Homo sapiens: one gene and its partners. The protein of the gene in region 1 interacts with the protein of each later gene in a biochemical or structural test. Each region holds a gene or a part of one and is shown in the gene's direction. Other genes may lie near its edges. The genes, in order: MCM3, MCMBP, DAPK1 and ATRIP.

Region 1 (7,030 bases):
GGGCTCAAGTGATCCTCCCAAGTAGTTGGGATTGCAGGCATGTGCTACGCCACCTGGCTTCACAATTCTTATTTTTTTTTTTAGAGACGGGATCTGTCTCTCTCAGGCTGGAGTGCAGTGGTGCCATTATAGAACACTGCAGCCTGAAACTCCTGGACTCAACGAATCTTCTCACCTTAGCCTCCTGAGTACCTGGGATTATAGGCATGCACCACCAGGTCCGCTAATTTTTTTTTTCACTTTTTTCTAGAGACAGGGTCTCGCTATGTTGCCCAGGCTGGACTGGAAGTCGTGGCCTCAAGTGATCCTCCTGCTTCCATCTTCCAAAGTATTGAGATTACAGACATGAACCACCATGCCCAGCCACAACTCTTATTATTTTTTTAAGAAAACACTTGTTCATTTTAGAAAATTAAGGAATAGTCAAAAGAAGAAGTCATCTACATAGATGTTTTAACAACGTTATAATTTTAGAATCTGCTTTTTAAAAAGTAGAAAAATAATGCTAGACTGTTATGTAATCTTTACAAATATTTTGTTGCGGGTTTGGGAGCAGGTTGGCATAGGAAAATGCTTTCTTCTTGGTGTTCAGATTGATCTGGATTGAGGACAATGCAAGGTTTTCCTCTGGAGACAAAAGATCATTTATATGGATTACTTGATGTCTGAACTGATTCTATCAAACAATTCCTCTCCTCCCCTCATCAAATTTTAATTGAGAACTACTGTATTCAAAGCACTATTAGGCGCTATGGAGGACAAGGATATAAATAAGACCCAGTCCTCGTCATTAGTCTTCACAGTGGTGGAGAAATGAAACATAAACAAAAACGAATGAATATCTTAGAATTATAACTTAAACATACTTTAGCATCATTTAGTCTACCTCCAGATGAAATGCTGAGATCAGAGAAGTTAAACAATTTGCTTACGGTCCCAGTTAGTGATGGCCTTAAGGACTAGGACCTGTGTCTCTTTAATTCATGCCAGTTGTATTTTCTAAGTCATTCTGTTGTCTTCTTCGGACCTTAAGATCTCCACTTTTTTAGAATTTCCTCTTCAGGAAGTACTTGGGAAGTACTCTTCTGTTGATTACTGTGGCCAAGCTTCTTTACTTGAAAAGTGAAATACATTGGACCAGATCTTCTGGAGGTTGTCTATGGTGATGCTTAAGAGCGTGGGCTTTGGAGTTAACACCTGTATCAAGTCAAGACTCTGCTACTTAACTGTGTGACCTGGGGGAACTTACTTAATCTCTCCTAGTCTCCTGGTTTCCTTGTGCATGACGTGTGAAAATACCTTCTTTACAAAGTTGTTGTGATAATTACATGAGATAATTTTGTGAAGTAATAGCACAGTGCCTGGCACATAGCAAACACTCAATAAGTGACAACTGTGTTTTTAGAAAATTCAAATGTGAAGGAAGTAAAACTTTAATATACGTACAGGAAAGCTCACATAAGTGTATAGCTTGATGAATTTTTACAAGCTGAGTACACCTGTGTAACCAGCTCCAAATGAGGAAATATTAGCACACAGAAGTCCCTCTTGAGGGCTCATGTTACCTAGGGGTAACCACTATCCTGATGTCTAACAGTATGGATTACTTTCAGCTGTTTTTTATTTAAATACTTATGGGCTTTTTATGCTCAACATTGTGTTTATGAGATTTATCCATGTTGTGTATAGGTGTGTTTCATACATTTTTATTGCTGTATAGTATTCATTTATGTGAATATACCGTGTTTAACCATTACACTATTGATGGCATTTTTACACTTTAAAATTTTTGACTACTAGGCATAATGTTGCTATGAGCATTACAATGCATGGCTTTGGGTGAATGTTTCTGTTGGGTATTACCTAGGAGTGGAAAAACTGCTTCAGAATGTAAGCATATATTCAGCTTTAGAGGGGAAGTAAGAATCTTAATTTAGATGTTAATATAACCATAGTCCATTCAGACTATGGGTTGCCCCTTCCATTCGATGGTTGTTACTAAAACAGACAGGAACACAAAAAGCTAGAGAAGGTACTTGGCTTTTTTTGTTACTGAATAATAAAATTTTATGAAGTCATCTTATTTGCCATGACAGGTGAGTGTGGCATTTTTAAGACAGGACGGAGATCACTCTGTCCCTCTGTGTGCCTTTTTCTAGGATGAGGAGAACAATCCCCTTGAGACAGAATATGGCCTTTCTGTCTACAAGGATCACCAGACCATCACCATCCAGGAGATGCCGGAGAAGGCCCCAGCCGGCCAGCTCCCCCGCTCTGTGGACGTCATTCTGGATGATGACTTGGTGGATAAAGCGAAGCCTGGTGACCGGGTTCAGGTGGTGGGAACCTACCGTTGCCTTCCTGGAAAGAAGGGAGGCTACACCTCTGGGACCTTCAGGTAAAGGGTCTGCCTTAAAGTATATGGAATGCTGTTGACAGCTTCCATTTCTGGTAATATCCTTTCTCCAGTTTGCCATATTCCAGAGAGTTATATCTGATAGGTGGAGCACTCTACCTGCCTGGGAGACAGGATACCTTCAATACCTCTTTTCTATCAGATAAAGCTGGTGATACTTAACCATCATATGCCAAAAATGAGAGTTATTGGTGACAATGATTACAGCCTCATGGCTTTCCTGGGAGTTTCTCATTTAATTACACTTCGTCCCCATACACAGTTCTGTCTGAAGTTCTGTGGGTCAATTCCAGAGGTGGGGCATGATCAGCATATTTGGATCACAGACAGAACCAGTTGTTTAATTCACAATAGCTACCTGCCCCCTCCCCACCAACTCTAATTGGCTGGTCTAGTTTGGCAGCCTAAAAAGGCTTACTCCTGCTAGGGGTACTAGCTACTGATGTTAGGAATTGAATATAACGGGTTTCCTCTTTATTCTGTTTGTCCCAGGACTGTCCTGATTGCCTGTAATGTTAAGCAGATGAGCAAGGATGCTCAGCCCTCTTTCTCTGCTGAGGATATAGCCAAGATCAAGAAGTTCAGTAAAACCCGATCCAAGGTCTGGGCATCCTTTAGAAATTTGAGGGTGGGAATGGATTTCTAAGAGTTGTGTTTTGGTGCATGGCTATTTTTGTACTAGATCAGAAGGAAGGGTTGAGGTTTGGTGTTAGCTTTTTCTATTTTTGTCTCAATCAACAAATGAAGGGTGTTTTTGCTGTTTGTTCTTTAGTAATTCTGTTGTTATTAAACAATTTTAATACCTGCTACCTGCTGGGCTGCTAAATGAGCCTAGTACAAATATTAGGATAGGTGTTAACTTGCCCGTGTACCAGTAAGTCTATTTATTACTGAAGGCGTTAGTGATGCATTACTACTTAAACATTTTTTCTTTGTTTTAGTTCTCCAACTTGTTTTTATCTTTTTAAGATAGGATGTATATCCACATTTAGAATTGAACTACATATATGAATGTGTGATGATAAAGGTTACTGTTCAAGCACAGTACATGTTCTTATTAAACCTAAAATGTTTTGAACCTGGGGATACTTTTTTCCCTTAAAGATTAAACCTCTAAACAAGTTTTGGAATCCAGGCTGCTCTGTGCCTACTCTGATAATGGCCTGATAGTGTAATTTGTCTTAGAAAATAATTTTTTGCAGTTAGGAACAATGTACCTGTTTGTGTGTTTCTTCAAGTATTTTCTTTTTTTTTTTTTTTTTTTTTTTTTTTGGTGAGACGGAATCTTGCTCTGTGACCGAGGCTGGAGTGCAATGGTGCGATCTCTGCTCACTGCAACCTCCGCCTCTTGGGTTTAAGTGATTCTCCTGCCTCAGCCTCCCAAGTAGCTGGGATTACAGGCGCACACCACCACGCCTGGCTAATTTTTTGTATTTTTAGTAGAGATGGGGTTTCACCATGTTGGCCAGGCTGGTCTCGAACTCCTGACCTCGTGATCTGCCTGCCTCGGCCTCCCAAAGTGCTAGGATTACAGACCTGAGCCACTGCGCCTGGCCCTCTTCAAGTATTTTCTATAGGCCAAAGTATATAAAGTGGAGCTCCACAAAGTCCCATTGAATCTCACTAGGCTTGCCATTGGTTATTTCTCCTGTAGGATATCTTTGACCAGCTGGCCAAGTCATTGGCCCCAAGTATCCATGGGCATGACTATGTCAAGAAAGCAATCCTCTGCTTGCTCTTGGGAGGGGTGGAACGAGACCTAGAAAATGGCAGCCACATCCGTGGGGACATCAATATTCTTCTAATAGGTACGATGTTGGGGATTTGCTTTAGACTGTTGTTCTGATGGAGTGGTTGTGGAGACCTATAATATGTAAGATTGTATATTCTGTACTTAGCAGTATTTCAGTCCTATCAAAGGACAAAAGGCTAAAATGAATCTTTTTTTTTTTTGTCATCTCTGGAATTCCTGATTTATAGTATATAAATATTCTTCCGTGAGTGGTGAAGGGAAAAGCGAAGGAAAAATATTAAAATCCACTTACTGTGTGACTCTGTTGTGTCAAGAGCTGTGCTAGAAAGGCAGAATTTGCTGGGGGTGCTGGGGAGTTTCCTAGAGAGTCATCACTGCCCCCACCCTACAGGAGACCCATCCGTTGCCAAGTCTCAGCTTCTGCGGTATGTGCTTTGCACTGCACCCCGAGCTATCCCCACCACTGGCCGGGGCTCCTCTGGAGTGGGTCTGACGGCTGCTGTCACCACAGACCAGGAAACAGGTAAGGGTGTAAGGGTCCTTGGCAAAGGCCCAGCAGAGAGCCTGAGCATAGATCCTTTGTGTGCCCTGGCTTGTGTTCTGAAGATACAGCTGATAGGTTAGTTGGGTCCAGATTATAGAGGACTGAGTATTCAGCAATGGTGGGTGAATTATTTAAGTCTTTGGTGTTCATCTATTTACAGGAATGTTTTCGATTTAAAGGATTAAGTCTTAGCACATTAGAAAGGAAATAAAAATGAAGATTGTACTATTTTATGAACTAGAGGAAGGGATTTGGAGACCAGTGAAGAGAAGGCAGAGGTCTAGTTGGGGTATTACTTGAGGTTGAGGCCGAAGAGAGAATCTATGAAGGAAATTTGTGAGAAGCTAGTTACTTAGGGGTCAAAGTGGGACAAAGAGATACTATTAATATTTAGATTAGAGCTGAAAAGGTGACCCACCAGGGTTTCCTCTAAGTTTCTCGGAGCCAACACACCATTGCCGCATTCTCACGTGCAAAGTGAGAGATTCCTAGGAAGGAGATTGAAATCCTTCCCTTCTGGCCCCTATAACCTAGACTGTAGCACGTATTTTTACCTTCTCACTTCCCAGGAGAGCGCCGTCTGGAAGCAGGGGCCATGGTCCTGGCTGACCGAGGCGTGGTTTGCATTGATGAATTTGACAAAATGTCTGACATGGATCGCACAGCCATCCATGAAGTGATGGAGCAGGGTCGAGTGACCATTGCCAAGGCTGGCATCCATGCTCGGCTGAATGCCCGCTGCAGTGTTTTGGCAGCTGCCAACCCTGTCTACGGCAGGGTAAGTGGAATCAGGCCCCAACCATTGTCCTCACCTTCATTTGGTTTTGCTGACTAACTGGGCTGAGAAGTGTATTCTAGGTGACCCAGGGGAATAATAGGCCAAAGACTAAAAGTAAGGCCATTTTCTTGTTATTGTCCTTTGTTTAGAGCAGTGTTCCTCACCCATTCCTGCACAGCAGAATCCCCTGGAAAGTTCCTTATTTAAAAGTAACTTTTTAACAGTACAGTTAAACAGTCCATTTAACATATTTAACCGTCCATTAAATAAAAGGACTACATGCATGTGGCGGGAGAATTTCTAAACAGAACAGGTATATAGTATGAAAACGAAAAGACTTGCTTCTCTCTCCTGTCACTTTGCCAAGAAATAACAGCTTTGAAGTGTTGCAGGAAACAAAACTTTAAGCATGTACCAGCAAATACACTATTTCCTTGTTAAGAATTATCTCTGTTTTTACCATGACTGTGATGTGCTAGATATAATCTTTTATATTTGTCTGTGCGTGGGGTTTGTTGAGTTTTTCCTTTTAAAAAAATAGATTTCTAGTATTCCGTCACAGGGATGTATTTAACTAGTCTCCATCTGATGGGTATTTAGTGGTTTCCATTTTTTCCTCCCTATTTTGAATGAAGCTGTAGTGGCCATCCCTTTATGTGTGTGGATAGATTTGGGAATATATCTGTAGTATAAATACCTAGCAAGGAAATTACTGGATTAAGAGTTATGTGCATTTTTCTTTTGGTAGAGATTGCAAAATTACCCTCTTTAAAGATTGTACCATATTAATACTTCTATTAATGAATGCTCATAAATGCTTTGTATTTACCAACTCCTTTTATCCTATCAGTAACTACCTCACAATGTGTAGTTATCTTTATTTTACAGATGAGAAAATGGAGGTACAAAAGATTATGTAACTTGCTCAAGAGCCACAAACTTGAAAATCGCAGAGCCAGGATTTGAGCCCAGAGCTCATGCTGTGTCCTGGCAGTTTATAATCAATCCCACAGTGTATGGGAACACCTTGTTGCGATGCGATGGTGTTTTTTATACATACAGTTGCATGGTCCCCCGTTCAGAGTTTCTGAATTAAAATCTCTTGAGTTGGAGCTCTTGGTAGCTATGGTTTAGAAGGGCTCCACAGGTTTGGTTTTAATGTGTAGCCAAGGTTGAAAACCATAGCTTTTAAAATTAATGATAGGGCTGGGCGCAGTGTCTCATGCCTGTAATCCTAGCACTTTGGGAGGCTGAGGTGGGAGGATCACTTGAGCCTAGGAGTTTGAGACCAACCTAGGCAATATAGTGAGACCTCATCTTTAAAAGTAAAATAAAATAAAATAAATGATAATGTATGTTTATGTCATTCTCAAGAGTGATTGGGAAATACAAGAAAAATGGCAGGACCTGAAACGTGAACATGGTCAAAATCATTATTACCTAAAGGTTGTTATGTTCTCTGACTGTGAAGTGTATGTGGATGGGTAAGTATCAGTCCAGTAGGCCCAGAATTGAAAGGAGAGTATTGGGGTTTTTGAA
Region 2 (5,934 bases), on another chromosome or scaffold:
TCTCGCTGTGTCATCCAGGCTAGAGTGCAGTGTTGTGATCATGGCTCACTGCAGCCTCAACCCCCCCAGGTTCAAGCGATCCTCCCACTTCAGCCTCCTGAGTAGTTGGGACCACAGGCATGTGCCACTGTGCCCAGCTAATTCTTTGTTTTTTGGGTTTTTTTGTTTTGTTTGGGTGTGTGTGTGTGTTTGTGTGTGTGCAGATAGGGGATCTCTTTATGTTGCCCAGGCTAGTCTCGAACTCCTGGGTTCAAGTGATCCTCTCTCCTTAGCCTCCCGAAATTCTGGAATTAGAGGTGTGAGCTACCTCGCCCAGCCCTCTTTTAAGTTTTTGTTTATCTGGGAATGTCTTAATTTCTCCTTAAGGCTAGTTTTGCTGGATGTAGAATTCTTGGTTTATAGTCTTTGTCTCATCATTTCGAATATGTCCTCCCACCACTTTCTGGCCTCTGGTTTCTACTGAGAAGCCAACTAGTTTCTGATAAGGATCCTTTGTACACACTGAGTCATTTTTCTGTCACTGCTTTCAAGATTTTGTGGCTTTTGACAGTTTCGATTATGATGTGTCTATGTGTGGATCTCTGAGTTTATCCTACATGGAGTTTGTTGAGCTTCTTGGAGGTGCAGAATAATTCATATTTTGGGGAAGTTTTCAACAAGTTTGGGAAGGTTTTGGCCATGTTTCTTTCTGCCTCATTTCTCTCTGCTCTCCTTCTGACACTACCACTGTGTATCTGATGTTGCATTTAATGGTATCCCACAGGTCTTCAAGGCTCTGTTCATTTTCCCTCATTCTTCTTTTTTTGTTCTGTTTCTTAGACTAATCTCAGTGAACTTATCTTCAAATTTAGTGATTTTCTTCTGCCTGATCAAATCTGAGCACCTCTAGAGAATTTTTACTATATTTTTCAACTCCAGAATTTTTATTTCCTTCTTCTAAAAAATTATTTCTCTCTTTTTATTGATACTCTCTATTTGGTGATTCTCATATTTTCCTGAAGTTCTTTTTATGTGGTTTCCTTTATTTCTTTGAATGTTTAAAATAGCCAATTTAGAGTCTTTTTGTCTAATGTTTGAGTTTCCTCTGGGACAGTTTTCTACTGACTCCCTTATCCCCAAAGTGTGAGCCATACCTTCTGGTTTCTTTGTACTTTTTTGTTGAAAACCAGACATTTTATTTGGTCAGTGGGGTCTCACTGTATCACCCAGGCTGGAATAGTAAGTAGCACAGCCACAGCTCACTGCAGCCTTAAACTGCTGGGCTCAAGTGATCCTCTTGCCTCAGTAGCTGGGACCATAGGTGTGCACCACCATGCCCAACTAAAGTTTTGTTTTTTTGTTTTTTCTTTTCTTTTTTTTTCTTTCTTTTTTTTTTTGTAGTGATGAGGTCTTGCTTTATTGCCTAGGCTGGTCAACTCCTGGCTTCAAGTAGTCCTCCCACCTTGGCCTCCCAATGTGTTGGGATTACAGGTGTAAGCCACCACATCTAGCCACAACCAGACATTTTAAATTATATAATATGGCAACTCTGCTTTGGAAGTTACTCTGGAAATTAAACCTCCCTAGGGTTTATTGTTGTTGCTGTTTGTTACTGTTGGTAGGTTGTTTAGTAACTTTTTTGACTAATTCTATAAAGTCTGTATCTTTGTCACATGTGGGCACTGAAGTCTCTGCTCTGTTAGTTTTGTGGTTAATGATTGGAAAGAAATTTCCTTAAATGCTGGGTAGTAGTCTCCCAGTCTACGGGTGAATAATAATCATAAATAAAAATAAAAGTTGGGGCAAGCCCTCAGTTCAACACTTAGCCATGCAATTTACAAGCCTTAGCCTTCATTTCCTGCTCGCACAGAGCCTCCAGGTCATGCAGAGGTGGGAGCTATGGTCTCTGAGCATGTCTGCAGCCTTCTGAGTTCCTAGGAGTTACATACTTAAGGTTTTCAGAGCCCTCTACAGACATGTCATTTCCCAGCTAGCTTTTCCATTGAAGGGTTTGGGTTAGTCTGTCTGCCGCAGCTGTTACCCAGTGTCTCAGGTAGCTAAGGTGATTGGTAATTTCTTCCGATTGTTTTTGATAAATGCCCTGGGGAAAGAGGTGGTTCATAGTAGACAGGCTTCCAGTCAGGTTAAATAAAGACAACCTTGCAAATGGGTCCTTCCAGGGAGCCACCAGACAGGTGGTCAGATGACAGTTCTCCGGGAATGGCACTTGGAAGGAGCCCTAGCCCTGTTCTCTCTCCGGTGGCTGCCAGGCTGTTGATTTTTGAAGCTACTAATTATCGCCTGGAGGGGAAGGGGTTGGAATTTAGGAGTAGGACATGTTAAAATGCTGCCAGGCTCAACATTCTTACCAATAATCACCTGGTTTTCTTGCATAAATGCTCTCTGGATTGCTGCAAGTATGGTTTTATTTCTAGTTTTTAAAAAGCTGATTTTGATCAGTGTTAACAGTAGAGACAGTTTTCTGCGGTCCCTTCTCTGCCATTTTCACTAACATCACTCTTCCTTTGTGGAAAAGCATTGTTTCCTATGCCAGTTGCTGATTTATATGTTTGCTTGACCTTAAATGAATCTGAGTTTCATTATTTTATTTTCATCAGCAGCATTATGTATGTATATGCTTTGGTACTTTCACCCATATTGCCTCCTTTGTCTAAGAGGCTGACATGCACCTTACTACATCAGTCAAGGAACCATGTTAATTTTCTTTTCCTTACAAAAATGCACATCATTTACATTTACTCTTTTGATAAAGGCAGTTGAAGATGACTTTGTGGAAATGCGGAAGAACGACCCTCAGAGCATCACTGCTGATGATCTTCACCAGCTGCTCGTGGTGGCTCGGTAAGTGGCGCACGTCCATTATTGCTGTTTCGGTAAGCTTGTGTATATGTCTTCTGAGTTATTCAGCAGTAACTGAGGCAGAATTCTAAAAACGGAAATGAACTTTTCCTTTTAAAAACGCTGTATGAAAGGGCTCATTGAGGGGGAATCGAGTTTGGCTGGTGATCTCTTCAGTGGAACAGGCATGCTGCTTGTTCTCTAAGCTTCAAAGAGTGAGCCACTTTCCAATTCTGACTCTTCAACGATTTCTTTTTAGAAGCCTAACTTGGCTGTTGACTTGTGTGTAACTACCATACGGTCTTGTCTCCTAACGTGCTCTGTGTTTTCACAAAGTATTCCTAGGTCTTAAAAAAAATTTAAAACTTACTATCCCAGCTCTAGACTTAAATTTGTTTCTGTGTTTCAAACCAGGTGTCTGTCTCTCAGTGCTGGTCAGACAACGCTGTCAAGAGAACGATGGCTGAGAGCAAAGCAGCTAGAGTCTTTAAGAAGAACGAGGCTTCAGCAGCAAAAATGTGTGAATGGAAATGAACTTTAAAGATGTAATACCTATGAAGAGTAATGGGCAAACTGTAGCCACATAATTGTAAAATTCAGATATTCATTTATACCACATTGTTTTATAGGTAATTTCTATCACAAACCAGTGACATTTCCTGAAATCAAGCCTGGTAACACCTGATGTTTATATGATATTCAGTAAGGACTTTTACCTTACTGATTTCATGGAGCTTTTGAAGTTTGTTTTATAATAATTATATAAATTAGTAATGATGTAAAAAAAGTATTTGATATTAAAAGTTTAATATTGATAATGTTGCTGATTGTACCATTTCCTTAGCTTCAGCTGAGTCATAGGCCAGACTGTTGAAATGCTGAAATGAAGAAGGTTGTTGCAGTTTCAAAGTCAGAGGAATCGTGCTTCGGATTTCTTATGTTTTCTAGTTCTCTGTTTTTCCAGTTCACAGTGGGTTGGGGTGCATTCAGTAGTCCATCTTTGGGGAACGGAGGCGTACTTGCCATTGATTCACATGACTACATGAAATTCTGTACTGTCATTTCCCAGATGTTTGGCCACAGAAACTTTTTCCCACTTAACATTTGTTAACAGCCTGCAAAACTAAACTTGTACATGGCAGTGGTTCCCAGACTTTTGTATTTTATGGACCGGTAGTAATATTTCCAAAAATCTGGGGTACTATAAGGTTGCCAATTTACCTTGCCAAGTAATCCGAATAAATCACTGTATTATCACCATTTTTTTCATAAAAGGAAAGGACAATCTATCTCTGAATAAGAGGAGTCCTTTAAACGGAATGAATGTGGCTTTTGGGGGCAAAAGAAACCAAGACACTACATTGTCTTTATTTTCTCCTATCCCAGTGCATTTGAGAACCATGCATAAGGGAATGCTGTGCTACAAAGCTGTGCCCAAATATGAAAACAAAATAGGAAACTTAAAAAGCAATACCCCCTTTAGAAAGTTTTTATTTTCTTAAATGTCATTGAGTTGCTTTGATTCTATTGGATTTTTGGCATTTTTTATGGGATCATCAGTTGGTTCCAAGTATGTTAGATCAGCTAACATCTGCTACTCCAGTAACAGCCTCGTACAACTGCAGGTAGGTTTTCTCCAGACCAATTAGTTTTAATAGAGCAAACTAACAACAGACTGTAGTAGCATGGTTATGGCAACCAGAATCTTCAGAAAGGTTAGGACATTACTTTTTAAGCTGTCAGTGGTATCAAATAACTTACCTAGTTGGAGGCAGATAAAGGATCCCTTACGTTTTTTCCTATAAGGCCTAAATTGAAATTGTTAACCAAGGAAACAGGGTCAGCCTTGAAAAATCAAGGAATTCATTGTACCTAATAACTGAAGTAAAAATAACTAGTTGTTCAACTTTTCCTAAACTCAAATCTATTTTTATAAACAAATGTAAATAATGTTTATATTAGAGTTGAACTGGTTTTCATTTTTATAACTGGTAGACTAGACCTTCCTTAAACTTTTAGAAATAAAATGAAGGCTTCACTGGATTTGTGAGGATAAAATACATTTTCTTTAATTGTCCTAGAGCAAAGTACATTAGTCACCATGTGTTTTTTGTGCCAATGTAAATTGTAATTTACCAAAGAAAAATACATACATTGCTTGGTCTTGCAGAAAAGTTCCCTTGAAAGAACCTTTCCAATAAATAAAACGTCCCAAATTAGCAGTACCTTGGGCTGTTTTTCATGAGTAAGAAGATTCACCATCCCATGTGATCTGTGTGGAAAAAGACCATGTCCTCTTGGTGGAAGACATGAGAGAGCTGAACTGAAGTGGAGGAGGTGGTGCAAGAGGGACCTTCCTGCTCAAGGCCCGCCCAGGCAGCGGAATGGAGTGCAGTGCTTGGCTGCAGAAACCCTTTGTCCCTCACCTATATATACACGGACAGTCAAGTTTGTTGCTCTAACGTAAGGCACAGCGTTAATCCTGTATGGCCAGGAAACTGAGTAGACTCCTGTGTAACCCTGTTTGGAACTTTGCCTTCTTAAAATGATTTTTCAAAGATCTCTTTCGAACTAATTTCTGTAGAGTTTAAACGTGTATTTTATCACCTAATGTTGGGTTGTATTTTCTCCCATGTTGGGAACCCTTAATATTTTCAGGACCCGGAAGAAAAGTTGGTAGAAGCAAGCATTCAGTTTTGAATGTTTGGATTTAAAGTATAGTTTCTGATCCATTTCCCTTTTTACATCATGAGTATATTTCAAAGGAGTAACATACTGGCAACAGCTAGACCAAGTGTTCAGTTATAGCAAATCTGCCGTTTACAAATTCTTTAATCTGTTATGCAAGGAATTCTCATACCCATTTGTCACTTTAAATTACAATGGTACTTTATTTTAATAATCACAAGATTTAACACGTAAAAAAAAAAGATAGCACTAATAAATAACAAAAGTGGAATGCTTATCAAAGTAACGACATAATGTTCAGTTGAGAATCAGTCACTTCAACAGAGTAAAGCTCTAAAGACACCAGACGAACCAATACTTGTTGGAATATGCCATACAACTTTCTTACTGTGGGGATTACAGGGGCAG
Region 3 (7,030 bases), on another chromosome or scaffold:
TGGGGAACAAACCATACCCAAGTCATAACAAGATGTATACACATACAGAAGAATGCCATAAGTATCACTATGCCTACTTCGAATCCGTGGAACGCTAAGAGAATTTATGATTGAAATTTGGTTAGTGGTGTTTCACGATTGTTATCATTTTTCTTTTTCTGTAGGAGTTGGCGATTTCAGCGTGTGGGAGTTCTCTGGAAATCCTGTGTATTTCTGCTGTTATGACTATTTTGCTGCAAATGATCCCACGTCAATCCATGTTGTTGTCTTTAGTCTAGAAGAGCCCTATGAGATCCAGCTGAACCAAGTGATTTTCTGGCTCAGTTTCCTGAAGTCCCTTGTCCCAGTTGAAGAACCCATAGGTGAGCTAAGTCCCTGCAGGCCAGTGATGTCCTACCTGTGGTTGGCCAGGAATCGCCTCCTCCTTCCAGGCTTCTGCCCTGCTCCTGCCACTGCTGCTGCTGGCCTTGCACCAGGCCATGAGCAGATCCCACCGTTTGTGGCTAACAGCTGAGCCAACTTCCTTTCTCCTTCCTGCTGGGAGACTTCCACTCTGAGAAGCTTCATGAGGCTCAAGTGTTCGTGGTATTCTGCAGGCTGTTTTTGTTTCATGATTGCATATTCCTGCCTCAAAGGCCCACTTTGAACAATCCTTTGAGAGGCATTTCTCACTTTTTTTCTACACTTGAGAGCCATGGTCATTGTATGTTGGGTGCAAAATGGAATCCCTGCTTGGATAGCTACTGCACCTTTACCTAAAGGGTACAGAATTAGTCAGCAGAATGAGCAGTTCTTCATCCTGTAATTCCACTAAGAAACAAAGAAAGAGGCCGGGTGCAGTGGTTCACGGCTGTAATCCTAGCACTGTGGGAAGCCAAGGTGGGCAGATGCCTTGAGCTCAGGAGTTCAAGACCAGCCTGGCCCACATGGCAAAACCTCATCTCTACAAAACATACAAAAACTTAGCCAGGTGTGGTGGCATGTGCCTGTAGTCCCAGCTACTTCAGGGGCTGAGGCAGGAGGATTGCTTGAACCTGGGAGGCTGTGGCTGCAGTGAGCCAAGATCGTGCCACTGCACTTAGCCTGGGTGACACAGTGAGACCCTGTCTCAAAAAAAAAGAGAGAGAAATGAAGAAAGGGAGCATGTTGACTGAATGTGTTATCTTAACTTTATTCCTAGAGGAGAGGATAACATGAAATAAACTTCCTTTGGTCTTTGCCCACAACAAGAGAAGCAGCCTTCCCTGGTGAAATGCAATACTCAGCAGTCAATTTTTTTTCTTTCCGGAAAAGCATATAATACAAGGAGTTGGGCTTAATGCCCCTCTGGGTACTGCCAGTTTTGCCTCTTTCTTTGTCCTTTTTTTCCTTTGTTTTAAACACTCCCCGAAGTGGGAGGCTCTTTGTGTGACTTGCAGGTCATTTACCTCTGACCCATCTCTGTGGTGTTGCTGCACTCAGGCGTCTCTCTTTGGTCTTGTAAGCGGCATCCCTTTTGTCACAGGTTAAATTTTCCCTCTCCTTGTAAGTAGGGGCTATTTGGAGACTTGAGAAACTGCCTTTAGTCATTCTGGTCCACTTTGAGCAATTTTCCTTGTGGCCTAGGAGATAGGCTTATCCTGTCGTTGGCCATGCTGGGGCCTTCTAGGGTCACAGTGCACAGCAGGCGTGGGGCCTTCATCTCTGTGGCATGTTGCACTTGTACCTGGAGAGTCGGCCTGGGCATGAGGCCAACACACCGCCCTCACCTGGGCAGGAGAGGCAGCCAGGTAGGAGGACCCACCCCCTGAAGCAGTTCCCTCTCTGCCCCCAGCCTTCGGTGGCAAGCTGAAGAACCCACTCCAAGTTGTCCTGGTGGCCACCCACGCTGACATCATGAATGTTCCTCGACCGGCTGGAGGCGAGTTTGGATATGACAAAGACACATCGTTGCTGAAAGAGATTAGGAACAGGTGAGGGGCAGCCACTTAGTCTCCAGCTCACGGGTAGCCTCCTCTCCCTGAGAACTGAAGCAGAGGTGTGAAAAGTACAAAGGAAGTCTCATGAACCAGAGAAAGGTTTTAAAGGTCTTTCTTTCTTGGTCAACTCTTTTCTTGTACAGGTCTTGTATCCCTTATTGGAAATGATCGGCTTTAGAAGTGTTTCTGATTTCTTATTTGTTTGGATTTTAATATATGTACATATACATAGCAGTTGAACATCCTAGTTCAAAAATTCTAAATCTGAAATGCTCTAATAACCATTTCCTTTGCATGTCTTGTCTTTGCCCAAAAGGTTTTTGGATTTTGGAACATTTCAGATTTCTGGATTAGGGATGCACAACCTTTATTTTTCATTTTTATTAAAACAATGAATCCACATAGTAAATCAAATACAAATGAAGAGCACGTGATGAAAGCAACCCCCTTCTTTCTACCTCCCAGCAACACTGCCCGGAGGTGACTTCTTTTAGCTGTTTAGATTTCAGTACTCAGTATTCAGTGTTCAGAAACACTAATCAGTATGTCTTACAATATAAGTTGCAACCTACTAGTGAGTCTTAAAATTCATTTAGGAAGTCGTGGCCAATTCTTTTTAAAATGGGATGGAATGGAATGGGATAGGATAGGACAGGAAAGGACAGGACAGGATAGGATAGATCAGATGTCAAGTATTATTTTGTAAAACGTTTGTTTCACTGATGAGTATGGGTATGTACAGGATTATGATGTAAAATATATGTTTTTACTCAGAGTCTATCAAAACAGTTTGAACCTGCAGCTTTCTATAATATGCTAGTATCTCTGATCTTGCATTATCAACTTGAGACATTTATCTATTGTCTTGAGACACTATATCTGTTGCCAGATATAAAAATGGGGCTTCTATTAATATTTTTAGGTCAGTGATGTAGCTTTTGCATTCACACCTCTATTCTTAGTCCCTCCACTTTCCACAGTATCTCTTGTCCTCACTTGTAAGGTGCGAGCATTAGGCCTCACCTTTCCTGCCTCGGGAGAAGCTGACATCTTTCCATGCTGTGCTCCTGCTGCTTCATGCAAACCTGAAGGTCCCGCTCCTATGACTCAGACTATATGCCAGTTTCCCCAAGTCTCTGCACCCACTGTGATGAGGCAGAGCCCACCAACAGCAGGGATGGGGAGGGGCCTTTGCAAGGACACCAGAACTTTCCTTCCCTCCTACCAGCCTCTTGAGCCAGTAGGAGCCTGGCCCCTCCATTAAAAGGCCTGGGGACATTGACTCACTGCTGAGGAGGCTGCTGCTCTTCCCTTAGGTTTGGAAATGATCTTCACATTTCAAATAAGCTGTTTGTTCTGGATGCTGGGGCTTCTGGGTCAAAGGACATGAAGGTACTTCGAAATCATCTGCAAGAAATACGAAGCCAGATTGTTTCGGTAAGTACACCATGGAAAGAGCCTGGACCCCTTTGTACTTCCTTCCTGGTTTGCCTCTGGTTTCAGGGAACTGCTTCATAGTAGGACCCAGTAAGAGGTGTCTGCCTGGACATGTCTTTATCCTAGTGCCCTGGGAAAAGAAAGGAAGAATAGAGAAACAAGGAGATGATGGGAGCTGAAGGGTTATTATGGGCAAGGTGGACCACTTCAATTTTATGAAATTCTTACCGATTTATTGGTTTCTTTAACAATATTTTATTTATTTATTTTATTTTTTCAGAGACAGGATCTCACACTGTCATCCAGGCTGGAGTACAGTGGTGTGATCATAGCTCACCGTAACCTTGAACTCCAGGGCTCAAGCAATCTGTCCATCTCAGCCTCCCAAGTAGCTAGGACTATAGGCACGCACCACCATGTCTGGCTAATTTTTTTGATTTTTTGGTAGAGACAGGGTCTTACTATGTTGCCCAGGCTGGTCTCGAACTCCTAGGCTCAGGTGCTCCTCCCACCTCAGCCTCCCAAAGTGCTGAGATTACAGGTGTGAGCCACCATGCCTGGCCAATTTTGGGAAAAAACCAAAAAATTCAAAAGTGACTTATTGTGGAATATTTAGAAAATTCAGAAAAGTAGAAAAACAGTCACAAACTTTTTTGAAAGACAGAAAAGAATAAATGAACAAAGGGAATGAGACTGTATTCTTGGGTTGCAAGATATGACTATTTTATTTTTCCCTAGTTATATAAATGTAATACAATTTCAGTTAGCATCTGAATGGGTTGAGGGGATTGGGATTTTTATCTTAAAATTTCCATGGAAAAATTCATTAAACCTATTATAAAGCCCCTGATAATCAATACAGTTAAATAGGAGGAAAAGCTTAGAGGGTATAGAAGTAAATCATAATATCTTTAGAAATATAATGGAAAATAAATATGTCATTTGAATTTAATGGGGTAAAGATTATTTAATAAATGAACCTGGCACAACTGGCTATTTGTCTGGAAGGAAATAAAGTTGGATTCCTACACCCTACAAAGTCCAAAAATAAATGGATTAAAGCTTTTAAGTAAAAACATGAAACAATAAATACCTTGAATAGAAATTGTGGAGAGTGTATTTTCAAAATAACTAGGGACTGAGGGAACCTGTTAAACCAAGATCTAAAACCCTAGAAATTTTAAAAGAAAATATACCTGTTTGAAAATGTAAAAATTTTTAAAATTTTTTTCTAGCAAACAAATTAAGTAAACAAAGTTGAAAGGTGAAATAGGCTGGGAAAAAGCATTCTCAATGCTTTGGACAGATAAATGGTCACACCGTAATGTTCAAAAAGCTCTCCGGAATTGGTAAGAAAAGGGCGAGCGTCCCAGTGGAGAAGTGGTGGCATTCACTCTGGAGTCTTCCTGCTGCCGAGGCCTGAGGACAAATGCGGGCAGATGCCTGTCTCCCTCTCTTACCTTTGAAGCTGCCTCTGGGTGTATTTTTTTTTTTTTTTTTTAACTGCTTTGCTAATAAGAAAATGCTGTGCTTCCCGCACCAGATTCTGGTTCTAGATGTGCTTCCAGAATTCTCGGGAAACCCTTTCCTGTCTCCAGAAAACCCTGCCCTTCACACCAGATATCCTCGTTGGGGTCCCACTGTGGCATCATCAGAAGATAGGGGGTAGTCCGGTGAGGCCTGGGAGGAATCTGTCACAGAAACCAGGGGCGGTGATCTGGGAACTAACAGTGGTCTCTGAGGGCCCCTGTGCTTCCCCACCAGGTCTGGATTGAGGCTGCATTCCTGAGGCAGGAGGGAGTGTCCCTGGAGATTTTTGAGCTGGGCTCTGGCATGATCTGCTGCTTCTCAGACACCCCCCGCCCAACCCCTAAACTCCTGAGCTCAGGCAGGTGGAGCCCACCACATCAACTGCACTCACCCCTGAGAATTTTGTTTTTGAATGCAGAGTGGAATTTAGCTGACACAAAAGAATTTGAGAGGGGAGTGCGGAATTAATGGCACGGTGTAGCCTGTGGCTTATGTGGTTTCTAATTCAGAGGTATGTGGATTACGTGAGTCTGTAACATATGCTGATCTAATTAACCAAGTTAAAAGGTTAAAAATCCACTTCAGCCTACATACCAAGAATGGGTCTAATTGGAAACAATATTTCAACAACAGTCCCCACGAATGCCTAATTTACTGGTAAACACTCACTCTAATATTGATGATGATACTCATTCTCTTTTCCTCTGTTCATAAAGTGATCATTGCCTGAGTGAAACAGTCACGAGAGAGAGAGCGAGGGAAGAAAGGAGGGAGGGAGGAAAAAGTGAGGGAGTGAAACATTAGGAGTTGGTGAACATTAGTTGATTGAGTGACTGAGTCCACAATTCCAAAAACGTTCCTAGAAGACTCAAAATCTATTTAACATGAACTAAAGAGCCTTTATAAAACTTTATATTTGAGCAATAGATGAGGCTTAAAAGCAAGTCTAAAAGACAACTGCCCCAGTACTCAACCCAAAAAACACAAACTAGCCAGACACAGTGGTGTGTACTTGTAGTCGGAGCTACTCAGGAGACTGAGACAAGAGGATTACTTGAGCCCAAGGGTTTGAGACCAGCCTGGGCAATAGCGAGACCCAGTCTAAAAAAAGAAAAAAAAACGTCAACAACAACAAAAAAACCCACTCGTTCATCAAATCACCTGCAAGGCGCCTGAATGAAAGGTGTCCTTTCCACTGTGGCTCTGCTCAGGGCACCCACAGCTGCAGGTGAGTTAACCTGTCTGGCCCTGCCCCCTCTAGGTCTGTCCTCCCATGACTCACCTGTGTGAGAAAATCATCTCCACGCTGCCTTCCTGGAGGAAGCTCAATGGACCCAACCAGCTGATGTCGCTGCAGCAGTTTGTGTACGACGTGCAGGACCAGCTGAACCCCCTGGCCAGCGAGGAGGACCTCAGGCGCATTGCTCAGCAGCTCCACAGCACAGGCGAGGTGAGCCCCTGGGAGCCCAGGCAGGGGGCCGTGAGAGGTGCCAGGGACTCAGCCTGTCCCAAATTCCAGCTCTTGGAAGTGGTGTGAGCCTGGGGAAGCAGTGTGGAAATGGTCCAGCTAACCTACAACATTTCCACACGTGTGACAAACACAGCCTCAAGTGACGCTCTGAACTGCAGTTCTCGGCTCACCTTAGGAGCTGTCATTTTGTCTTGTCGTGTTTTGCTTTTATTTCCAGAGTCTGTTAGTTTGGGAGTGCAGTGCCCACTGCCCTGGGTGACTGGGTCTCTCTTCACTCCCCCTGGGCACCAGGAACTTAATCTGCTACTCCTGGCAGCCTTCAGGATGGCTTCTTTGTATCAGCGTGGAGTCATCAGCTCCACACAGATCTCCTGGGTGGGAAAACAGTTGAGAAAAGGCAGTGAGGTGTCCTTGTGGAGGCAATGTCTGGAGATACAAAGACAGAGAACTCTGGTGCACAGATACACAGAGTAATCATAATTAAAGATGCACATTAAAAAACTCTAGCAAGCAATGCCCAGCAGAAATGATTGAGAATGGGAGGCTTTGCTCTGGTTCTGTGACATTGAGCACCAGGGCGCGGTTTGGAAACCCTGTTCTAATGGCATCATATGCCTGTCCCAGGAACGGGGGC
Region 4 (7,030 bases), on another chromosome or scaffold:
ACAGGAAATCAAGACCAGCCTGGCTAACATGGTGAAACGCCATCTCTACTAAAATCCAAAAAAAAAAAAAAAAAAAAAGCCAGGCATGGTGGCACACACCTGTAGTCCCAGCTACACAGGAGGCTAAGGCAGGAGGATCACTTGAACCCAGGAGGTCAAGGTGGCAGTAAGCAGTGATCACACCACTGCACTCCAACCTGGGTAACAGAGCAAGACCCTATCTCAAAAAAGAAAAAAAAAAAAAAAGTGGGTATTTTCAGCATTTTCTGGCAAAAGTGGGAAAATATTGGGTCCTGAAATGTATATGGAACTATTTTTTACAGGTGATCATAAGGTCCACAGATTATTAGATGGCATGTCAAAAAATCCTTCAGGGAAAAACAGAGAAACTGTTCCAATTAAAGATAATTTCGAATTAGAGGTACTTCAGGCACAATACAAAGAACTTAAAGAAAAGGTAAGTGACTTAACTTGTGGTTTTTGTAGCTAATTCATTCACTTACGTGTTTAAAAGCATTGTACAGTAAAATATACAAAAGTTGTAAAACAAGTGTCTAGATTCATCCCTATGACATGGGAAAAGACTAGGGAAAGAAAACCAGAAAGTTTAGGCTGAAAGAAACTAAATTGTGAGATTCCTAATGCCAAAGGCAAGAAGAAAAACACTGTATACCAGATCCAAAAAGAGATACAAACTGTTAGGGTACTAAGATGAATTTATAGCATGTATCTTCATGTGAATAATACAACTTCATAATGGTTGCTATTTTCATTAGCAGCTTTGCAAGAAAGCAGACACTTCATATCACCATCTGTAGGTCCCTAAGAAAACCAGGAATATGTGGAATTTTAGTTGTGCAAGGTATGTGACCCAGATTTTTTTTTTTTTTTTTTTTGGAGATGGAGTCTGTCATCCAGGCTGGAGTACAGTGACACAATCTTGGCTCACTTCAACCTCTGCCTCCTGGTTTTAAGCGATTCACATGCCTTAGCTTCCAGAGTAGCTGGGACTACAGGTGTGCACCACGACGCCCAGCTAATTCTTGTATTTTTAGTAGAGACGGAGTTTCACCATGTTGGCCAGGCTGGTCTCAAACTCCTGGCCTCAGCCTCCCAAAGTGTTGGGATTACAGGCATGAGCTACCACACCCAGCGACCCAGATCGTTAATGCCTCTTAGAGCCTAAAGAATCCGGCCAGGCGCGGTGGCTCACACCTGTAATCCCAGCACTTTGGTAGGCCGAGGCCAGTGGATCACCTGAGGTCAGGAGTTCAAGACCAGCCTGGCCAACATGGTGAAAACCCGTCTCTACTAAAAATACAAAAATTAGCTAGGCATGGTGGCGGGCACCTGTAATCTCAGCTACTCGGGAGGCTGAGGCAGGAGAATTGCTGGAACCTGGGAGGTGAAGGTTGCAGTGAGCCGAGATCGTGCCATTGCACTCCAGCCTAGGCGACAATAGCAAGACTCCGTCTCAAAAAAAAAAAGGAATCTGGTCAGGCAAGGTGGCTCATGCCTGTAATCCCAGCACTTTGGGAGGCCAAGGTGAGAGAATCGCTTGAACCCAAGAGTTCAAGACCAGCCTGGGCAATACAATGAGACCCTGTCTCTACAGATAAAAGTGAAAATTGGCCAGGCTAGTGGCACATGCTTTGTAGTCCTAGCTACTCAAGAGGTTGAGGCGAGAGGATCACTTGAGCCCAGGAGTTCAAGGTTACATTGAGCTATGATTGTGCCACAGCATTCCAGCCTAAGCAACCCCATCCCCCTCCCTGGCAAAAAGAATCTGCATGCATGAGTGGCAAGTGTATGCTTAAGCTATCTTGATGAATATCAGCTGTCCCATGAACAGGCCTAGCAGACCATGGTGACATCTGGTTGCTGTGGATATATTTTGAGTACTCATTTGTCTGTTTTTCCTGTGCTTTCTCCATCTCCCCAACTACATGTTAAAACAAAGTACCTAAGTAGTTTTCTCTTACAAAGTTTTCACGAGATTAATTTGGGATTTACAGATGAAAGTAATGGAAGAAGAAGTTCTCATTAAGAATGGAGAAATTAAAATTTTGCGAGACTCACTACATCAGACGGAATCCGTTCTAGAGGAACAGAGAAGATCACATTTTCTTCTTGAGCAAGAGAAAACCCAAGCACTCAGTGACAAGGAAAAGGAATTCTCCAAAAAGGTGACCCAGAGCATTTGTTTTGCACCAGCTTTGCCTGCCCACTGAGTTCCTTTGACCAGGGTTGCCTGTAAATCTTCCAGGGAGATTTCAACACTTGTTTGTCTTAAATACTTTCTGCTATCATCTCATTGCCATCCACTCTTCTTCCAGGGTCTGGATATATTTTGGAAAGGGATTTAGATGAAACTCTATTTTGCTGTGGTAGTTGGTCTTGGCAGGAGTAAATAACTAGCTTAGCATTTCTAGAAACAGGTTTACATTAAGGCTCTTTTGCTAGATCAGAAACTCAACTGACCTGGCTTAGGCTAAAAGGAAACGTATTGGCTTCCATATCCAAGTCTGGGAAGAACCGGGGTATGCTGGGACCTTAAATGACTTAAATCTTGCCAGGACATTTTTATTCTCTATGCTATAAACAGGCTCTATACTTATGGTAGAGGGTGTGTTCTCCAGAAGCTCCTGGGCTCATATTTTATAAATACAGAGCAGAATTAAGACTTAGGGCCACATGCAGTGGCTCACACCTATAATCCAGCACTTTGGGAGGCTGAGGTGAGAGGATTACTTGAGCCAGGAGTTCGAGACCAGCCTGGGCAACTAGTGAGACCTCATCTCCACAAAAAAGAAAAAGAAAAAATGAACAAAATTATCCAGGCATGGTGGTGTGCACCTGTAGTCCCAGCTACTCAGGAGGCTGAGGTGGGAGAATTGCTTGAGCCCAGGAGGTTGAGGCTGCAGTAAGCCATGATCATGCCATTGTACTCCAGCCTGGGCAATAGAGCGAGACCCTGTTTCAAAAAAAGACTTAGGCTCCCTCATCTCAAGTTTTAAAATTCTGAGAAAGGCTCTGATTGGTTTAACTTGAGTCAGTTGTCTGTCCCTGGCCAATTGCTATAACCAAAAGCAACCAAAAGCAAAAAAATGACAGCTCCCATTCTAATAAAATAGTCAGAGGTAGGGAAATTATTGAATTTTTTTTTTTTTTTTTTTTTTTTTGAGACAGGGTCCAGGGTTTCACTCTCTTGCCCAGGCTGGAGTGCAGTGGTGCAATCACAGCTCACTGCAGCCTTGACCTCCCAGGCTCAAGCAATCCTCCCATCTCAGCCTCCCAGGTAGCTGGAACTATAGGCACACACCACCAGGCAAAGCTAATTTTTAAATTTTGGTACAGACAGGGTTTTGCTGTATTCTCCAAGCCGTTCTCAAGCTCCTGGGCTCATGCAGTCCTCCCACCTTGGCCTTCCAAAGTGCTGAGATTACAGGCGTGAGCCACAATGCCCAGCCTGTTTCTCAGGGAAAGGAAAATGCTATTCTGGAAGGAAAAACAGTAGGTATCCAGTACCTACTACAACTTTCCCTCAGCACCTCCTCATGCTTCAATCTCAAGGACATGGGATCTTATTCTCATTGTTTCATTCAGCAAACTTAGCAAACTTTAAGCACTTACCTGTGCCCATCATTAACCGCAATAGTTAACTTTCTGTATAAGTGATGAAGAGCAAGGAATTTGCGGTCAGACAAACCTGAATTTGAATCCAGGCTTCATCACACATAAGCAGTGACCTCAAGGTAATAACTTAAGCTCCCTGGCTCATTTCCCTTATCTGTTCCAAGACATAACCAGAAAGGTTGTTGGGAGACTCACACATTCTTGCACTTACTGTGTCTGGTGCTGGGCCTGGCGCAGAGTGTGCTTGGGGAATGATGGCAGTTACTGTTGGCTGTAGCAACTGCAGGCCAGAGCAGCAGGTCTCTCTATACTGCACAGTGTCTTGGTAAACTATTCCAACTACTCTGCCCAAACTTTGAGGAAGACCTGGAATTGTGCACCAGTGCGTTCGTTAATAAAGGTCAATATGTTACTGCTGACATAGGGCACCTTACCAAGCTCTATGCTGGGTATTTTACACTCATCATTCTACTTAATCCTCCCAACTATCATGAAGACAGGTGTTTTATGTTACAAATAAGTTAGGATTCAAAGACATTAAATAAATGGTGGGCTGGTATTTAATTCTTTTTTTTATTTTTTAAATTTTTTGTAGAGGCAAGATCTTGCTATTTTGCCCAGGCTGGTCTCGAACTCCTGGGCTCAAATGATCCTCCCGCCTCAACCTCCCAAAGTGCTTAGGATTACAGGCCTGAACCACCACACCCGGCCAGGGCTGGTATTTAAACCCTCACAAACTACCCTTACAATAGAGTCCAGTATCTTTTTAGAGTACCATATTGTCTTTCAGAAAGAAAGCTAATGTTTAATATTTTAGGACATTTATGTCACAGCAGACTTTCATATGTATTTTTCATTGTTTGTCTTTTACTGGCTTGTGATTTTGAAGCCCAGAGATATTTTTGTGTATATGATGGGACCACTACAAGCATGTTTCTTTTGCCTTCCAGCTCCAATCATTGCAGTCTGAACTCCAGTTTAAAGATGCAGAGATGAATGAATTAAGGACAAAGCTCCAGACCAGTGAACGAGCAAATAAACTGGCTGCTCCCTCTGTTTCCCATGTCAGGTAATGATGGTGCTGGAGGGATAGTTCAGTTTTGCATTATTTAGTAAAAAATCTGCATAACAGTGTCAGGCTGGTCCTAAATGAAGGCCATTTAGACCCCTCCACCTGGGCAGAGATCCTCTTTTCCTGAAGGATTCAGAGGTGGTTTAGATGAAGCTTGCATGGTTTGAGACATCACAGCATAAAGGCCTATACTCTAGAAATGCTGCCTCTGTATGGCACTTTATAAACATAATTCTTCAGGACTAGAAAGACCTGGAAAAATGATCTCCAAATTTTGGGGGTGGGCTAGTCTCTACTTTTATGTAATTTGTTTAACTGATTTTGTTGCAAGCATGGGTGTATTTTAGTTCCAGCTACTTGGAATATTTTTTTCTCATTTGCTTTCTGGGGACCCTTGTCCAACAGCCCCATCCTTTGTGGTCAGATGTGCTCAACTTGTTTTTTTTTTCTTTTTTTTTTGAGACAGAGTCTCGCTCTGTCACCCAGGCTGGAGTACAGTGGTACAATCTCGGCTCACTGCAACCTCCGCCTCCTGGGTTCAAGCAATTCTCCTCCTTCAGCCTCCTGAGTAGCTGGGACTACAGGCACACACCACCACGCCCAGCTAATTTTTGTATTTTTAGTAGAGACGGAGTTTCACCATGTTGGCCAGGCTCGTCTCAAACTCCTGGACTCAAATGATTTGCCAGCCTGGGCCTCCCAAACTACTGGGATTACAAGCATGAGCCACTGTGCCTGGCGCAGCCTGGAAATTTGAACAGTGTCAGTCAGGGCATCTTCTGGTTTTGAACTTTCTACCGCCTTTGTTCATAATGGGCAGTGTGTGAAACTGAACTCTCCATGCCTTGCATTGTCCACATAAGACAAGAGAACTGAGGGGATCCTCTTCACACATCAGTAACAGAAAGACCTCAGCATTATATGATCAGATCAGAGAGTTAATACTGCTTCTCTACCATAAAGACATTGGCACTAAGTTGCTCAGTTTTCAACATACCTAGTAGGTTTATCAAAATTATGATATTTATTTTGATAGCCCTTTTTCTATTTAAAGTCTTTGCATTCTATTGGAAGTCTTTTTTTTTTGAGACAGAGTCTCACTCTGTTGTCCAGGCTGGAGTGTAGTCACATGATCTCAGCTCACTGCAACCTCCACCTCCCGGGTTCAAGTGATTCTCCTGTCTCAGCCTCCCAAGTAGCTGGGATTACAGGCACATACCACCACACCAGGCTAGTTTTTTTGTATTTTTTTTTTAAGTAGAGATGGGATTTCACCATGTTGGCCAAGCTGCTCTCGAACTCCTGACTTCAGGTGATCCACCCACCTCAGCCTCCCAAATTGTTGGGATTACAAGGGTGAGCCACTGTGCCCAGCCTGGAAGTCTTGTGACTATTAAAAAATCGTTTGTTCCACATTGGCTGGGTGCAGTGGCTCACACCTGTAATCCCAACACTTTGGGAGGATGAGGCGGGCAGATCACTTGAGGTCAGTAGTTCAAGACCAACCTGGCCAACATGATGAAACCCTGTCTCTACTGAAAATATAAAAATTAGCTGGGCATGGTGGCATGCGCCTGTAATCCCAGCTATTTGGGAGGCTGAGGCAGGAGAATCACTCAAACCTGGAGGCAGAGGTTGCAGTGAGCCAGGATCACACCACTGCACTCCAGCCTGGGCAACAGAACAAGACTCCATTCCAGAAAAAAAAATAGTTTGTTCCACATTGAAAAGATGTTTTGCACCAGGCATGGTAGCTACAGAGGCAATCCCAGCTACACAGGAGGCTAAGGCAGGAAGATTGCTTAAGGCTAGCAGTTCGAGACCAGCCTGGGCAACATAGCAAAACCCCATTGCTACTTAAAAAAAAAATAAAATTACTGGCCCCAGTGGCTCACGCCTGTAATCCCAGCATTTTGGGAAGCTGAGGTGGGCAGATCATTTGAGCCCACGAGTTCAGGACTAGCCTAGGCAACATGGTGAAACTCTATCTCTAGAAATAACTCTATCTCTAGAAAGAATAAAAAGTTAGCCAGATGTGGTGGTTGCACATCTGTAGTCCCTGTGCTACTCAGAAGGATGAGGTGGGAAGATCACTAAGCCCAAGAGGTGGAGGCTGCAGTGAGCCGTAATTGTGCCACTGGGCTCCAGCATGGGCAACAGAGTGAGACCCTGTCTCACCAAAAAAAAAAAAAAAAAATTAGCTGGCCATGTTGATGTGTGCCTGTAATCCCAGCTACTCAGGAGGCTGGGATTACAGATGGGTGGATTGCTTGAGCCCAGGAGGTCAAGGCTGCAGTGAGCTATGATCATGCTACTGTACTC

What was found.
Region 2: the proteins of MCM3 (region 1) and MCMBP form a complex in vitro, tested with the Homo sapiens proteins (one study listed by BioGRID).
Region 3: of the proteins of MCM3 (region 1) and DAPK1, one has a biochemical effect on the other in vitro, tested with the Homo sapiens proteins (one study listed by IntAct).
Region 4: the proteins of MCM3 (region 1) and ATRIP form a complex in vitro, tested with the Homo sapiens proteins (one study listed by BioGRID).

Annotation. Positions count from the first base shown.
Region 1 is NC_000006.12:52,274,729-52,281,758, reverse strand, and holds part of MCM3 (DNA replication licensing factor MCM3), read left to right. Parts: intron 1-84; exon of another isoform or gene 85-206; coding exon of another isoform or gene 207-218; intron 219-2,159; coding exon 2,160-2,398; intron 2,399-2,908; coding exon 2,909-3,017; intron 3,018-4,070; coding exon 4,071-4,224; intron 4,225-4,560; coding exon 4,561-4,692; intron 4,693-5,282; coding exon 5,283-5,491; intron 5,492-7,030. UniProt on the Homo sapiens protein: Acts as a component of the MCM2-7 complex (MCM complex) which is the replicative helicase essential for 'once per cell cycle' DNA replication initiation and elongation in eukaryotic cells.
Region 2 is NC_000010.11:119,828,919-119,834,852, reverse strand, and holds the end of MCMBP (mini-chromosome maintenance complex-binding protein), read left to right. Parts: intron 1-2,752; coding exon 2,753-2,841; intron 2,842-3,252; coding exon 3,253-3,379; 3' UTR 3,380-5,413; downstream 5,414-5,934. UniProt on the Homo sapiens protein: Associated component of the MCM complex that acts as a regulator of DNA replication.
Region 3 is NC_000009.12:87,696,843-87,703,872, forward strand, and holds part of DAPK1 (death-associated protein kinase 1), read left to right. Parts: intron 1-164; coding exon 165-362; intron 363-1,813; coding exon 1,814-1,952; intron 1,953-3,274; coding exon 3,275-3,395; intron 3,396-6,186; coding exon 6,187-6,375; intron 6,376-7,030. UniProt on the Homo sapiens protein: Calcium/calmodulin-dependent serine/threonine kinase involved in multiple cellular signaling pathways that trigger cell survival, apoptosis, and autophagy.
Region 4 is NC_000003.12:48,449,714-48,456,743, forward strand, and holds part of ATRIP (ATR-interacting protein), read left to right. Parts: intron 1-323; coding exon 324-457; intron 458-779; exon of another isoform or gene 780-862; intron 863-2,015; coding exon 2,016-2,186; intron 2,187-4,586; coding exon 4,587-4,705; intron 4,706-7,030. UniProt on the Homo sapiens protein: Required for checkpoint signaling after DNA damage. Required for ATR expression, possibly by stabilizing the protein.